4 linked regions of the Homo sapiens genome follow. The protein of the gene in region 3 purifies or fractionates together with the protein of the main gene of each other region. This does not show direct contact. Each region holds a gene or a part of one and is shown on either strand. Other genes may lie near its edges.

What was found.
Region 1: the proteins of KIF1C (region 3) and LYST purify together in Homo sapiens (affinity purification with mass spectrometry; one large-scale study listed by BioGRID and IntAct). This does not show direct contact.
Region 2: the proteins of KIF1C (region 3) and CASC3 purify together in Homo sapiens (affinity purification with mass spectrometry; one large-scale study listed by BioGRID and IntAct). This does not show direct contact.
Region 4: the proteins of KIF1C (region 3) and ANXA7 purify together in Homo sapiens (affinity purification with mass spectrometry, with the first as the bait; one large-scale study listed by BioGRID). This does not show direct contact.

Annotation. Positions count from the first base shown.
Region 1 is NC_000001.11:235,800,907-235,804,406, reverse strand, and holds part of LYST (lysosomal-trafficking regulator), read left to right. Parts: intron 1-1,342; coding exon 1,343-1,499; intron 1,500-3,309; coding exon 3,310-3,500. UniProt on the Homo sapiens protein: Adapter protein that regulates and/or fission of intracellular vesicles such as lysosomes. Might regulate trafficking of effectors involved in exocytosis.
Region 2 is NC_000017.11:40,147,037-40,150,536, forward strand, and holds part of CASC3 (protein CASC3), read left to right. Parts: intron 1-3,500. UniProt on the Homo sapiens protein: Required for pre-mRNA splicing as component of the spliceosome. Core component of the splicing-dependent multiprotein exon junction complex (EJC) deposited at splice junctions on mRNAs.
Region 3 is NC_000017.11:5,021,950-5,025,425, forward strand, and holds part of KIF1C (kinesin-like protein KIF1C), read left to right. Parts: intron 1-142; coding exon 143-760; intron 761-1,518; coding exon 1,519-2,202; 3' UTR 2,203-3,476. UniProt on the Homo sapiens protein: Motor required for the retrograde transport of Golgi vesicles to the endoplasmic reticulum. Has a microtubule plus end-directed motility.
Region 4 is NC_000010.11:73,383,059-73,386,558, reverse strand, and holds part of ANXA7 (annexin A7), read left to right. Parts: intron 1-2,868; coding exon 2,869-2,982; intron 2,983-3,213; coding exon 3,214-3,384; intron 3,385-3,500. UniProt on the Homo sapiens protein: Calcium/phospholipid-binding protein which promotes membrane fusion and is involved in exocytosis.

The sequences.
Region 1 (3,500 bases), on a different chromosome or scaffold from region 3:
ATGGACTAGGACTTGGTCAGATGAGTTCAGTGGATCTTATCTCCTCGTGATGGATATGTGATGGGATGGACAGTATTTTGTCATTGCCCTGTCTTATACATAACAGGAGAGTGATATGATAAGCTTTTCCTTATCTAATCTGGAAATTTACTGAGAATTACTTCGAGTTAAGACAGAAATATATTACTTGATTTGGTATATTTTACATATACCTGATAGTGTATTAAATGCTAATTCAGGGATGGTGGTGATTTACCTATCCTATCTGGTTCTTTGGTGGTATAGCTAATATTTCCAGAACTCTCTACTCACATTAATTTTAAATCATTCAACATAAAAATGACTAGTGCCTACATAGAAAATAGCAGTCACAGTGTTTTAGTTGTTTAACATTTTTTCCTAAAACAACTGTTGTAATTTTCTTTCCTAAAATTATGTGGTACATAATTGGCTTGTTTCCCTCTCATTTTATGTTTATTTTACCTTTAGTTGCCATCTGTCCTTTATTTTTTATATAACTTCTCCTTTTAGCTCCTTGATCTAGCCATATATATAATGTTTTATAAGGTTTTGAAATAACATTTTATGTTACTATTTGCCATAACTTAAAAACATGCTGAAATAGCTATGAATACGTTCATCATATTACTGAATTAATTGACTAACTGTAAAATGTTAAAATACCTACTTTATTCTACCTTTTATTGTTGTTACAATGATGAAGTATTCTGAGCTTCTTTAAGTGAAAATGTTTTCTAAAATGAAGGTATTAGTGGAATTTTTATAAGAAAAGGAAAATTTCTTTCTTACACAGGAAGTTAGTACTGGAACTCTTGACTTCTGAGATGCTTGTTATGTAGACAGTTGCATTCTGAGATCTTTTAATTAATCCCTTTGAAAAAAATGTCTTGTCTGCTCTAGTTACCTAACTTATAAGGCATTTATAAAAATCCTTATGAAAAAATCTTTTTTATTAACAAATGTGCACAAATAATATATATTAGTATTAAATTGTATGAAGTAAAATTTTACCACATTGTGGTTTTTTGTCATTTCCAATTGTATAACTAGAATGAAATTTCTTACATAGATTTATTTATTAAACTGAAATGACCTATAACTTACTTTGTTAGAAACCCCCTTTTTGAGGTATTAAGTTGTCTGAAAGGATCTGGGAAATTTTGCTGAGTGAATTTCATAATTTATAATGATTCATATTGTTTACTAAGTTTTTTTCTTCAAGAAAATATTGAAACTGTCCTTAACATGACTTTTGAGTAATAAGTATTCTATTACTAAAAACAAGCAAATGTTACAACCTTTGAATTACACTGATTTATAGAGTCATCAATCTGCAGAAGAATTGTCATCCCAGCCTGGTGATTTTTCAGAAGAAGCTGAGGATTCTCAGTGTTGTAGTTTTAAACTTTTAGTTGAAGAAGAAGGTTACGAAGCAGATAGTGAAAGCAATCCTGAAGATGGCGAAACCCAGGATGATGGTAAAATATCATTGAAGTGCTTGTAATTAGATCTGCAAGCCAGATCATTAAATAGCAAAATGGTTCATAATAATACCACTTTAGAATTTTGTATTGCCTTACAGTTTAACAAGTGTGTTGCATAATCTTTTTATTGATCTTCCCAACAGTCTGGCATTCATATATGCAACAATGTGATATAGTTTGTTATCACAAACATCATCTGAGTGGTTAAGAACATGGAGTGAAGGACAGAGTCCCCAATTTCATGTATATTCTAGTGTGAAAGACAATAAATACCAGAAATAGATAATAAAATAGAAATCGATAAACTGGGTGATGTCGTATTAGTAACTGGGTGGTGAGGGAAGTCCTTTCTGAAGAGGCAATGTTTACATTGAGGACTAAATGAAAACAAGCTAGGCAGACAAACACTGGCAGGAAGAGCATTCAGGCAGTTTGTTATAAAGAATACATAATACAGGAATGCAGACACCTGTCTGTGACAGCCAAGCATAGATTTCTTCTTAGTTTACCACAGCTCAATTTGTCTTTAGGATGGAACTATATTGCCTATGATCCTTTCCTCCCTTGTCTTTGGACTTAAAATGAGTAGAATGGAAAAGATGGGTTGATTAGAGCCAAGAGACTTCTGGCAAGACTCCATCTTTTTATATGCTGACCTTGTGAGTGTCCCAGTACTGCTAGTTTTTTTTTTTTTTTTTTTTTTTTTTTGAAATGGAGTCTTGCTCTGTCGCCCAGGCTAGAGTGCAGTGGCGTGATCTCGACTCACTGCAACCTCCATCTCCCAGGTTCAAGCTATTCTTCTACCTCTGCCTCCCAAGTAGCTAGGATTTCAGGAGCCCGCCACCATGCCCAGCTAATTGTTATATTTTTAGTAGAGATGGGGTTTCACCATGTTGCCCAGGCTAGTCTCGAACTCCTGACTTCGTGATCCACCCGCCTCGGCCTCCCAAAGTGCTGGGATTACAGGCGTGAGCCACCGCACCCAGCCACTGCTAGTCTTCACTGAGTTCTCAGTAGGATATCTTCCTCACAGTCAGTTTTCTCGCTCTCATCTAGTGAATGGGAATAATCACTGATATCTTACTTAAAGGGCTTGATGGACCCATGACTGGTGCTTTTTGAAAAAATATTGGTTTATTAATTTTTTTATAGTACAGCTTACCATAGTACAGATTTGACTTTATAATTTTGGATTTCCTCCTTTTTTATGTTTGCTAAGTAGATCTCAACTTAAAGAATTCTGATCTAGGTAGAAATTTATAAATTTCTTAACTGTATCAACATTTTATTAAGAGCACAGCAGTCTTAAAAGATCATATAAGTCAAATTTTCCAAAATGCAATATTCAATAAGACAGAGTCTGTTTCTCACTTATGAAGAAGGCAAAATTGATCATTCTTCCAACCACTAGTCAAGCCTACTATTTTCACAAAGATTTGGGTAGGCAAATTGAACTGCTCTGTGATTTAGGTATTTGAGGGGGGGGTCAGAAAGTTTGAATAGGTTTTTTTTTTTTAAAGTTGTGTCCATGGGATGTGTTAAATCTCTATCATATGTCTGTAAAAATTCTTATTTGTAAAATTTGTAGTTCTATTGAAGATGAAAATTGCTTTTAAGGGAACTCATTAATCTTCAAAATTTCCATATCATTGTCAAAAGTTGTGTTATAGGAAAAGATTGGAAAAGGTTTTGTAAGCATCCTCTGAATTACTATTTTTGCCACTAGATCTTCTAAATGATTAATGAAGTTTGAAATATTTAGTGTTTAGGGAATACAAGTAATCTTTCGCTTTTCTCTTTTCAGGGGTAGACTTAAAGTCTGAAACAGAAGGTTTCAGTGCATCAAGCAGTCCAAATGACTTACTCGAAAACCTCACTCAAGGGGAAATAATTTATCCTGAGATTTGTATGCTGGAATTAAATTTGCTTTCTGCTAGTAAAGCCAAACTTGATGTGCTTGCCCATGTATTTGAGAGTTTTTTGAAAATTATTAGG
Region 2 (3,500 bases), about 35 Mb from region 3:
GTTTTGGGGATTGTGAATTTATAGCAGCTTACCATTCTATATGTAAGGGAGTTTGGATGTTTTCCTAATGGCTAGGAAAGAAGTACCACTGAAGGCTTAAATGTGGGGGATGAATTGTGGGTGAGGCACAAAGGAAGACTAGAGGCAGAAGAGCTGTTTAGAGGTTGTTAGGATAGTCCAAGGAGCATGACGATGGTGCCCCTAAAGAAGGTTCATACTTGTTGGAATGGCAAGATGTGGGACAGATTAGAGAGAGATTCTAGTGTACTAACAACCCCTTCATTGATTGAATGTGGAACCTAAATTAAGGAGTCAAAGGAGGCCAGGTACCTTGGCTCATGCCTGTAATCACAGCATTTTGGGAGGCTGAGGCAGGTGGATTGCTTGAGCCCAGGAGCCTGAGACCCACCTGGGCAACATGGAAAAATCCTGTCTCTACAAAAGAAAAGTAGAAAAAAAAATTATCCGGTCTTGGTGGCGCAGGCCTGTGGTCCCAGCTACTGAGGAGGTTCAGGCAGGAGGATCATCTAAGCCCAGGGAGGTCAAAGCAGTAGAGCTGTGATCACTCCACAGCACTCCAGCCTGGACAACAAAGTGAGACCCTGACTCAGAAAAAGAAAAAGGAGTCAAAGGAATGTGCAGGTTGATGAATGGTGTTGAATGGTGTTAACTGTTAAGGAAGGGACCCCAGGAGAAGAGTTCTGGAAGGACAGTTGTGGGTTAGGTTTTGGATGTTTTGAGATCGAGAAGGTGTGGGACTTTTAGGTGGTGATACCTGGTAAATAGTTTTTGATTCCTAATTGCTCATACCTTTCTGAGTTCTCATTTCATTTTTGAGTTTTTCCAATTCTGATTGATGTTCTTTCATGCCTTATATAATTTTCTTAATGTCTTTTTAGCTTATTTTGAAATAGAAGTTGCAATTTTGATATGATATGCGGATGTCTTTCTGGCATGCTTTCATTGTCTGTAGGAATGCTATTATTTTTTCTTATTATAACTTTATGGGATTTAACTTCTGTATTTTCTGTTCATTTTTATGTAAAATTAGTTTTCCTGGTCTTTTCGAAGGAAGCATGATTTAGAATAGCTTTTTCTAACTTCACAGAGCTGCTTCTGTTGTTTTTCTGTGGTGGTGAGAAATATGGTGGCTTGCTTTCTGAGATTTGTTGCTTTTGTTCCCTTTCCCAGCTTGTTCTGGACCATCCCTGTCCTACTGAATTTGGTCCTGCTCTCAACAGTTTCTCTTCTAGGAACTCCCTTCTAGGGACAGTGTAGGGCCCTGTCCCCAGAAGGAAGCCCTGGCAGCCAGGTCAGCTTCATCCCTTCAGACCTTTTTTTTTTTTAAGACAGAGTCTCACTCTGTCGCCCAGACTGGAGTGCAGTGGCGCAATCTCAGCTAACTGCAATCTCCGTCTCCTGGGTTCAAGCGATTCTCCTGCCTTAGCCTCCTGAGTAGCTGGGACCTCGTGTGTCACCGTGCCCAGCTAATTTTTGTATTTTTAGTAGAGATGAGGTTTCACCATGTTTTCCAGGCTGGTCTCGAACTCCTGACTCAGATGATCCACCCACCTTGGCCTCCCAAAGTGATGGGATTACAGGCATGAGCCACCGTGTGTGGCCCCCTTGCTAGTTGTAAGTGCTGTTCTCAGTTTTGACTGTTGTGCTTTCCCTTGACTGCCTGTTGATTATTTCAGTGTTCTCCTGTTCTCAGGTCCATTTGCTTTCTCTCTGCTTTCTCCTGCGTGGACACCAGTACTATACAGGTCCTACAGCTGTTGGTGCTTTGTTATGCACTTACATTTTGGGTCTTGGGGGATACCTGGTAACTTAACTTTGTTGCAGTGTTGTCTGAAGGTTTTGGTTTCTTTTTTATTTTTTGAGACAGAGTCTTGCTGTCGCCCAGGCTGGAGTGCAGTGGCTTTGCCTTCCAGATTCAAGCTATTCTTGTGCCTCAGCCTCCTGCGTAGCTGGGATTACAGGTGCGTGCCACCATGCCTGGCTAATTTTTGCATTTTTAGTAGAGACGCGGTTTTACCATGTTGGCCAGGCTGGTCTCGAACTCCTGGTCTCAGGTGATCCACCCACCTCGGCTTCCCAAAGTGTTGGGATTATGGACGTGAGCCACTGTGTCTGGCCAGGGTTTTGGTTTGGGTCTCGGTTTTGCTGTCCAGAGCTCTCATTCCATGTGGAGATTTGAAGAGAGATAAAACTGTGCCACTGCCATTTTCTGAGAGTCTTCCAAGAATTCTTTTTTTTTTTTTTTTGGCAAATGGGTCTCCTTATTTTGCCCAAGCTGAGCTTGAACTTGAACTTACAATCCTCATCAGCCTCTTGAATAGCTGAGACAATAGGTTCATGCCACTGTGCCTGGCCAAAAAAACTTGTTAAAGAAATTTGACTGAGGGAAGGCTGAAGAGATGGTAGTTGGAGAGGTAGCTTTGAGATCAAGAGGTGATTTGGATGTTTTTTAAAAAGTTAGGAGAGTATCAAATAAGGTCAAAGATTGAAAAAAAGAAAAGAAAGGGGGAAAAAAGAGAGGGAATAGATAATGATATTGAGTACTGGTATTTTTGACTGAGTATATGAGAAAAAGTAGGAACCAGACAAGATTAACATCTTCCATTGTAATTACAGAGAAGTGGGAAGGAAAGGTATGTGCAAAGGAAGATTAGAAAGGAGGGAAAAGCTGGGTGCGGTGGCTCACGCCTGTAATCCCGGCACTTTGGGAGGCCGAGGCGGGCAGATCACGAGGTCAGGAGATCGAGACCATCCTGGCTAACATGGTGAAACCCCGTCTCTACTAAAAATACAAAAAATTAGCCGGGCATGGTGGCGGGCACTTGAGCCTGGGCGACAGAGCGAGACTCCGTCTCAAAAAAAAGGGAAAAAAAAGAGGGAATAGATAATAATATTAAGTACTGGTATTCTTGACTAAGTACATGAGAAGATGTAGGAACCAGATGAGAAGTATCTTCCATTGTAATTACAAAGAAGTGGGAAGGAAAGGAAGTTAGCGTTCCTTTCTGTGTTTTGTTTTTGTGAAATAGAAGGATAGAGCAGGACAGGCACGGTGGCTCACACCTGTAATCCAAGCACTTTGGGAGGCCAAGGCAGGAGGATTGCTTGAGCCCAGGAATTTGAGACCAATCTGGGCAACAAAGTGAGACCCTCTCTCTACAAAAAATCAACCTGGCGCAGTGATGTGTGCTTATGTCCCAGCTACTTGGGAGCTTGGAGTGGGAGGATCCCTTGAGCCCAGGAGGTCGAGGCCACAGCAAGCTATGATTGCACCACTGCACTCCACCCTGGGTAACAGTGTGAGACTCTCGAAAAAAACAAAAGAATGACATCTGCTTCAAAAAGTAAGAGTGTGTGCGTGTGTGTGTGTGTGTGTGTGTGTGTGTGTAACCCCCTTTGGCAATGGAGTAGTCTGTTGTAGGCCTGGAGAAAGCAGACATTTGAATTGATCCAGTTCCAGGCATATGGGAGTGGCAAGA
Region 3 (3,476 bases):
GGTGCGCTGTTGGGGTGGAGCAGGACTTGAACCCAGGCTCCCTGATGGGCGTGTTTCCAGTGTACTTAGGACACACTGGGCCAAGACACATGGGCTCTGGATGTCCTTAGCCCTCTCTTCCTCTTTCTTTCTCTGGCCCCAGTATGCAGACTCGGACAGCGGGGATGACTCTGACAAGCGCTCTTGTGAAGAGAGCTGGAGGCTCATCTCCTCCTTGCGGGAGCAGCTGCCGCCCACCACGGTCCAGACCATTGTCAAACGCTGTGGTCTGCCCAGCAGTGGCAAGCGCAGGGCCCCTCGCAGGGTTTATCAGATCCCCCAGCGACGCAGGCTGCAGGGCAAAGACCCCCGCTGGGCCACCATGGCTGACCTGAAGATGCAGGCGGTGAAGGAGATCTGCTACGAGGTGGCCCTGGCTGACTTCCGCCACGGGCGGGCTGAGATTGAGGCCCTGGCCGCCCTCAAGATGCGGGAGCTGTGTCGCACCTATGGCAAGCCAGACGGCCCCGGAGACGCCTGGAGGGCTGTGGCCCGGGATGTCTGGGACACTGTAGGCGAGGAGGAAGGAGGTGGAGCTGGCAGTGGTGGTGGCAGTGAGGAGGGAGCCCGAGGGGCGGAGGTGGAGGACCTCCGGGCCCACATCGACAAGCTGACGGGGATTCTGCAGGAGGTGAAGCTGCAGAACAGCAGCAAGGACCGGGAGCTGCAGGCCCTGCGGGACCGCATGCTCCGCATGGAGAGGGTCATCCCCCTGGCCCAGGTAGGACTGGCCTTCTGCCTCCCTTCTCTCCTCCCTCGGCTCTTCACTTTAGGAGTCTGAACCTTCCATCTCAGAGCCTAACCTTCCCCAAGTCTGGAAAAAATTGCATTGAAGTATAGTACGTTTTTTTCAATATTGTTTACGAACCACATGCCTCGCTGTCACCAGGCTGCTAATTAAAATAGATTCCCGGGTTCCACCCCAGACCTACTGAATCCACATCTTTGGGGACAAATCTGCATTTATAATAAGCTCTGGGTGTTTCTGAAATACAGTGAAGTCTAAGACCCACTGATATAAAGTTTGCAGTTTTGTTTTGTTTCTGAGGTGAAGTCTTGCTCTGTTGCCAGTCTGGAGTGCAGTGGCACAATCTCGGCTCACTGCAACTTCCGCCTCCCAGGTTCAAGCCATTCTCCTGCCTCAGCCTCCTGAGTAGCTGGGACTACAGGCGCGCACCACCACACCCGGCTAATTTTTTTTTTTTGTATTTTAGTAGAGACGGGGTTTCACCATGTTGGCCAGGATGGTCTTGATCTCTTGACCTTGTGATCCGCCCACCTCAGCTTCCCAAAGTGCTGCGATTACAGGCGTGAGCCACTGCGCCCGGCCCTAAACCACTATTTTTCGAGCTTCCTTATCTCTAGGCTTTTCTCTGGACCCTTTGACATCCAGCCACTCCAGGTCCCTCTTGAATCCACATGTCCTGAGGATTCAGCTCTCCTCACATCCCTTCTCCTTTTCTCACTCCTCCCTCCCAGGATCATGAGGATGAGAATGAAGAAGGTGGTGAGGTCCCCTGGGCCCCGCCTGAAGGATCAGAGGCAGCAGAGGAGGCAGCCCCCAGTGACCGCATGCCGTCAGCCCGGCCCCCCTCGCCACCACTGTCAAGCTGGGAGCGGGTGTCACGGCTCATGGAGGAGGACCCTGCCTTCCGTCGTGGTCGTCTTCGCTGGCTCAAGCAGGAGCAGCTACGGCTGCAGGGACTGCAGGGCTCTGGGGGCCGGGGCGGGGGGCTGCGCAGGCCCCCAGCCCGCTTTGTGCCCCCTCACGACTGCAAGCTACGCTTCCCCTTCAAGAGCAACCCCCAGCACCGGGAGTCTTGGCCAGGGATGGGGAGCGGGGAGGCTCCAACTCCGCTCCAACCCCCTGAGGAGGTCACTCCCCATCCAGCCACCCCTGCCCGCCGGCCTCCGAGTCCCCGAAGGTCCCACCATCCCCGCAGGAACTCCCTGGATGGAGGGGGCCGATCCCGGGGAGCGGGTTCTGCACAGCCTGAACCCCAGCACTTCCAGCCCAAAAAGCACAACTCTTATCCCCAGCCACCCCAACCCTACCCAGCCCAGCGGCCCCCAGGGCCCCGCTACCCCCCATACACTACTCCCCCACGAATGAGACGGCAGCGTTCTGCCCCTGACCTCAAGGAGAGTGGGGCAGCTGTGTGAGTCCCACATCCTGGGCAGAGGGCCTGGTGGGGCCCCTTGCTAGGAGAAGGGAAGACGCCCGAGACGCTGCTTCCCCAGAAGTGCTGGGGCAGGGAGGCCCAGGAGATGAGAGAGAAGGTCCGAGTAGGTGATAGAAGACAAGGGGGAGACCGAGCCGGAGGCTGAGGAAAGGAAGAGGGCACGGAGTTGCCAGGAGCAAACCAAAGTGAAGAGAGAGATAGGAAGCTGCCTCGGGGCCACCCCTTGCAAAGGGGGTGTGTCCCACAAACGCTGCTATGGGTGGGGTGGGGGGCTGGGGTGCTGCGTAGCCAGTGTTTGACTTTCTTTTCAAGTGGGGGAAAGTGGGAGAGGACTGAGAGTGAGGCAAGTTCTCCCCAGCCCCTGTCCGTCTGTCTGTCTGTCTGTGGTGGTTTCTGTTTCTTGGGAGGCATGGTAGGATCATAAGTCATTCCCCTCCCCTTCCAGGCCTCCTGCTATATTTGGGGGACCTGACTGGTTTGGCTGGAGTCCCATGAGGATGTGGGCCCTTTAATAAAGGATAGCAAACAGGGAGCTTGTGGCCTGTTTGTTTTGGGTTTTCATGGAGGTGTAGGTTATATAAGGCAATGGCACAGGTCTTAAGCATACTTATCAGTGAAGTATTGTATGTGTGCTCTGTGCAGGCACCACCCAGATCTGGATATAAGAATGTTTCCATCTTGTCTTCCTGAACTTCACCCTCCTGTCTCTTCCTTCAGGGTGCGCAGCCCGATCTTTTCCCCGCTTTTTTTTTTTGGGAGACAGGGTCTTGCTTTGTTGCCCAGGCTGGAGGTACAGTCTTGGCTCACTGCAGCCTCCGCCTCCTGAGTAGCTGGGATTACAGGCATGTGCCACCACGCCCGGCTCATTACTGTTTTTTTTGTAGTGACGAGGTTTCACCATATTGGCCAGGCTGGTCTCGAACTCCTGATGACCTCAAGTGATCCGCCCACCTTGGCCTCCCAAAGTGGTGGGATTACAGGTGTGAGCCACCGCGCCCGGCCTCCCCTGCTTTCATGTTTGCTTACCCAGTGTCTCAGTCTGTGCCAGCAGCACCACTGTCTGTTATGGACAAAGCACAGAAGCGGGGATGCGAGGGGAGGTAGAGGGACCGCCAGCCTGTCAATGCTTAACTGGCTGTTGCTGACAGATACAGAAGGATTTGTGGGGTACAGAGGAGTTCTGCTTTAAGTCACCTAACTTACTTGAAAGGTCTCCCAAGCAGCCAGTTTCTCTTGATAGTGAATGGGTTGGGC
Region 4 (3,500 bases), on a different chromosome or scaffold from region 3:
AAGATTTGGCTTAAATATCAGCTACTCTGAAGTTTCTTTCATTAGTCTGGACAGAATTTAGCTGCTTCTTAATACTGTAGTCCCATAGCACTTTGTAAAACCTCTGTTATTACTAATCTCACGGCCCACCCCCAAAAACTGAGCTCCCATAGGACAAACCATGGTCATAGTCATCTTTGTATTACAGTACCAAGTATATAATGGCAAGTAGCCACTTAGTACTTGTTGAATGGATGATCAGTTTCTAAATCCAACAAGATTCTATGGCTAAAAAATGCCATTGTTCCTCAGATGTAATGGGAAAACATGGATAGCACTGCTTTGCTTTTTTTTTTTTTTTTTTTACTTTTTTTTGAGACAGAGTCTCAAAAGGCTGGAGTGCAGTGGCATGATCTCCGCTCACTGCAGCCTCCACTTTCCAGGCAAGAGCGATTTTCGTGCCTCAGCCTCTCGAGTAGCTGGAATTATAGGTGTCTGCCACCACACCCAGCTAATTTTTGTACTTTTAGTAGAGACGGGATTTTGCCATGTTAGCAAGTGTGGTCTCAAACTCTTGGCCTCATGTGATCTGCCTGCCTTGGCCTCCCAAAGTGCTGGGATTACAGGCATGAGCCACCACGCCTGACCTGCTTTGCCATTTAGATAGGAATCCTAAAAATATCCTAATGTTCTCTGCATCTAGTTTATATTTCTCAGAATGGGGTAGTGGTCCATTGATTGGTCCCACCTTGCTTATTCTATTTTGCCTTTCCCTGTCTGCCCAGCCCAGTGACTGATTATGCAACACAAACCCTAGATCTCCTTAAGCTTCAACATCAGACTCACTATTCTCACAAAGATATTTTCCATGTTATGAATTTTTTATCTAGTCTGCACAATGCTGTCTCAAGTTTTTTTATATATTGCTTTAGAATTAAAACTAACAATCTAATTTCCGTACCACTAGCCACCTCTTTTCTTAACTTCCTAATTAGTAAAACACTGTTTTTCTAGCCTGCTATAGTCATCTTTGAGTCCATGTTTTTCTTTTATCATAGGGAGTATTCTGTATGCTTTGTCCTAGCAGTTGGTTATTTACTAGTTTTTATTGATCTAATCTATAAAATGGCCCTTTAAAATGTTTCTTTTGTCTACTTTGTTCCTTCTCATTTCCATTGTTACCATTCAAGTCCAAGACTTTATTACCTCTTAACTAAATATTCCAGTAGCCTAAATGTTTTCATCTATAGCTTCTTTGTCACCATCATCCATTCTGAATATTGTTGCTACATCAGTGCCATTTTCTTGCATGAAAAGTTTCCAGTGGTTCCTCCCAGCAAACAGAATCAAGTCCATATTCTTTAGCTTGGCATTCAGTGTAATAATCCAAGATTTAGTTACAACTTTGTTTTAACTCATCTATTATGAAAACCTTCCTCTGTAGCAAAACCGGTTGTCTTATTGTTCCATTGAACAAGCTTTGCTCATTCTTGGCTCTATACGAGTAATTCTCAACCTTAACTGAACATCGTAATTTCCTTTAAAACTTAAAAATACACAGAATCTCTGAGTCTTAGTCCTGGACATCAATGTTTTTCTTTTTTTTTTTAAAGCTCCACAATGAATGTAATGAAGAGTCAAGGCTGGGAACCCCTTCTCTGTTCCTTGGTGGTGTTCCTTCTTACCTGAAATACCTTTCTCCTTCGTCTTTGCATGCTAATTTTTACATTTTTCTCTGAGCTCTCCAGCTGACTTTGAACTTTTTCTGTTTCAACTTTCTCTATTACTTATTTCTATGCTACTTACCCAGTGCTAGAGTACAGGTTACCTTACATTATTTTTTTTTTAGATGTGTATCTTTCCAAATAAGAACAATATCGGCTGGGCACAGTGGTTCATGTGTGTAATGCCAGCACTTCGGGAGGCCAAGGCGGGTGTATCACTTGGGGTCAGGCATTCAAGACCAGCCTGGCCAACATGTGAAACCCCATCTCTACTAAAAATACAAAAATTAGCCTGGCGTGGTGGGATGTGCCTGTAGTCCCAGCTACTCAGGGGGCTGAGGAAGGAGAAGCGCTTGAACCCAGGAGGCAGAGGTTGCAGTTAGCCGAGATCACACCACTGCATTCCAGCCTGGGCCACAGAGCGAGACTCTGTCTCAAAAAAAATAACAACAAAAAACAAATAAGAACAAGATGATAATGGTTTCTACTTCCTCATAGAACCAAGAACAGTTCCTTTTACTAAGTAAATATCTGTTTATCATTTTGTCAGTTTGAATAATTCTTTGTTTCATATATCCCTTGTTTTTGTACCTGGTAGAGTGGAATAAGATTTTATTAAATGTTTATTGATAGAATGAATAAAATAGATCTGCTTGAGTGTAATAAATGTGTAAGTGTAACAGACTTTAAATTTATTTACTTCTTTTTTATTTCTATTTATTTATTTTTTTTTTTGAGACGGAGTCTTGCTCTGTCGCCCAGGCTGGAGTGCAGTGGTGCGATCTCAGCTCACTGCAAGCTCTGCCTCCCAGGTTCACGCTGTTCTCTTGTGTCAGCCTCCCGAGGACCTGGGACTACAGGTGCCTGCCACCACTCCCGGTTAATTTTTTGTGTTTTTAGTAGAGACAGGGTTTCACCGTGTTAACCAGGATGGTCTTGATCTCCTGACCTCATGATCCTCCTGCCTTGACCTCCCAAAGTGCTGGGATTACAGGCATGAGCCACCGCGCCTGGCCTTTATTTACTTCTTAGTATATTAACATTCAGCTTTCAAATTTAGGTTTTTATAAAGCAATTCCATTTCTTTTTTTGTATTTTCCTTAAAAGATTTAAGTGACAAAATTTGGAGAACACATATACTTAGCTTGTATTTGTGATTAAATAGGATTTAATCAAAGATCTCAAATCAGAGTTAAGTGGAAATATGGAAGAACTGATCCTGGCCCTCTTCATGCCTCCTACGTATTACGATGCCTGGAGCTTACGGAAAGCAATGCAGGTACTACTATATGTCATTTATTATGAATATTTTGTCCTATTTCATATGTAAAACCGTACAAATTATGACAGTTCTGAATTTACAGTGGTAATTAAAGCAATTCTTTATTTCACATCATCCATCTGAATATATAGTTTTTAGTTCTACAGAACAAAGAAATATTTGACGAAGATTTAATTACTTGCAGAAATTTCATTTTTCTTTGTATAATCTTCCCTTCATTTCATGTAGGGAGCAGGAACTCAGGAACGTGTATTGATTGAGATTTTGTGCACAAGAACAAATCAGGAAATCCGAGAAATTGTCAGATGTTATCAGTCAGAATTTGGACGAGACCTTGAAAAGGACATTAGGTCAGATACATCAGGACATTTTGAACGTTTACTTGTGTCCATGTGCCAGGTGAGTATAGTATGAATGCTTGTGCGTTGATAGAGGGAACATACTTTAAAAGCCTTTTGCCAGTGAGCATTCTTTATTCCTTTTAATATTTAGCCACCTTGCAATATTGCCATCTT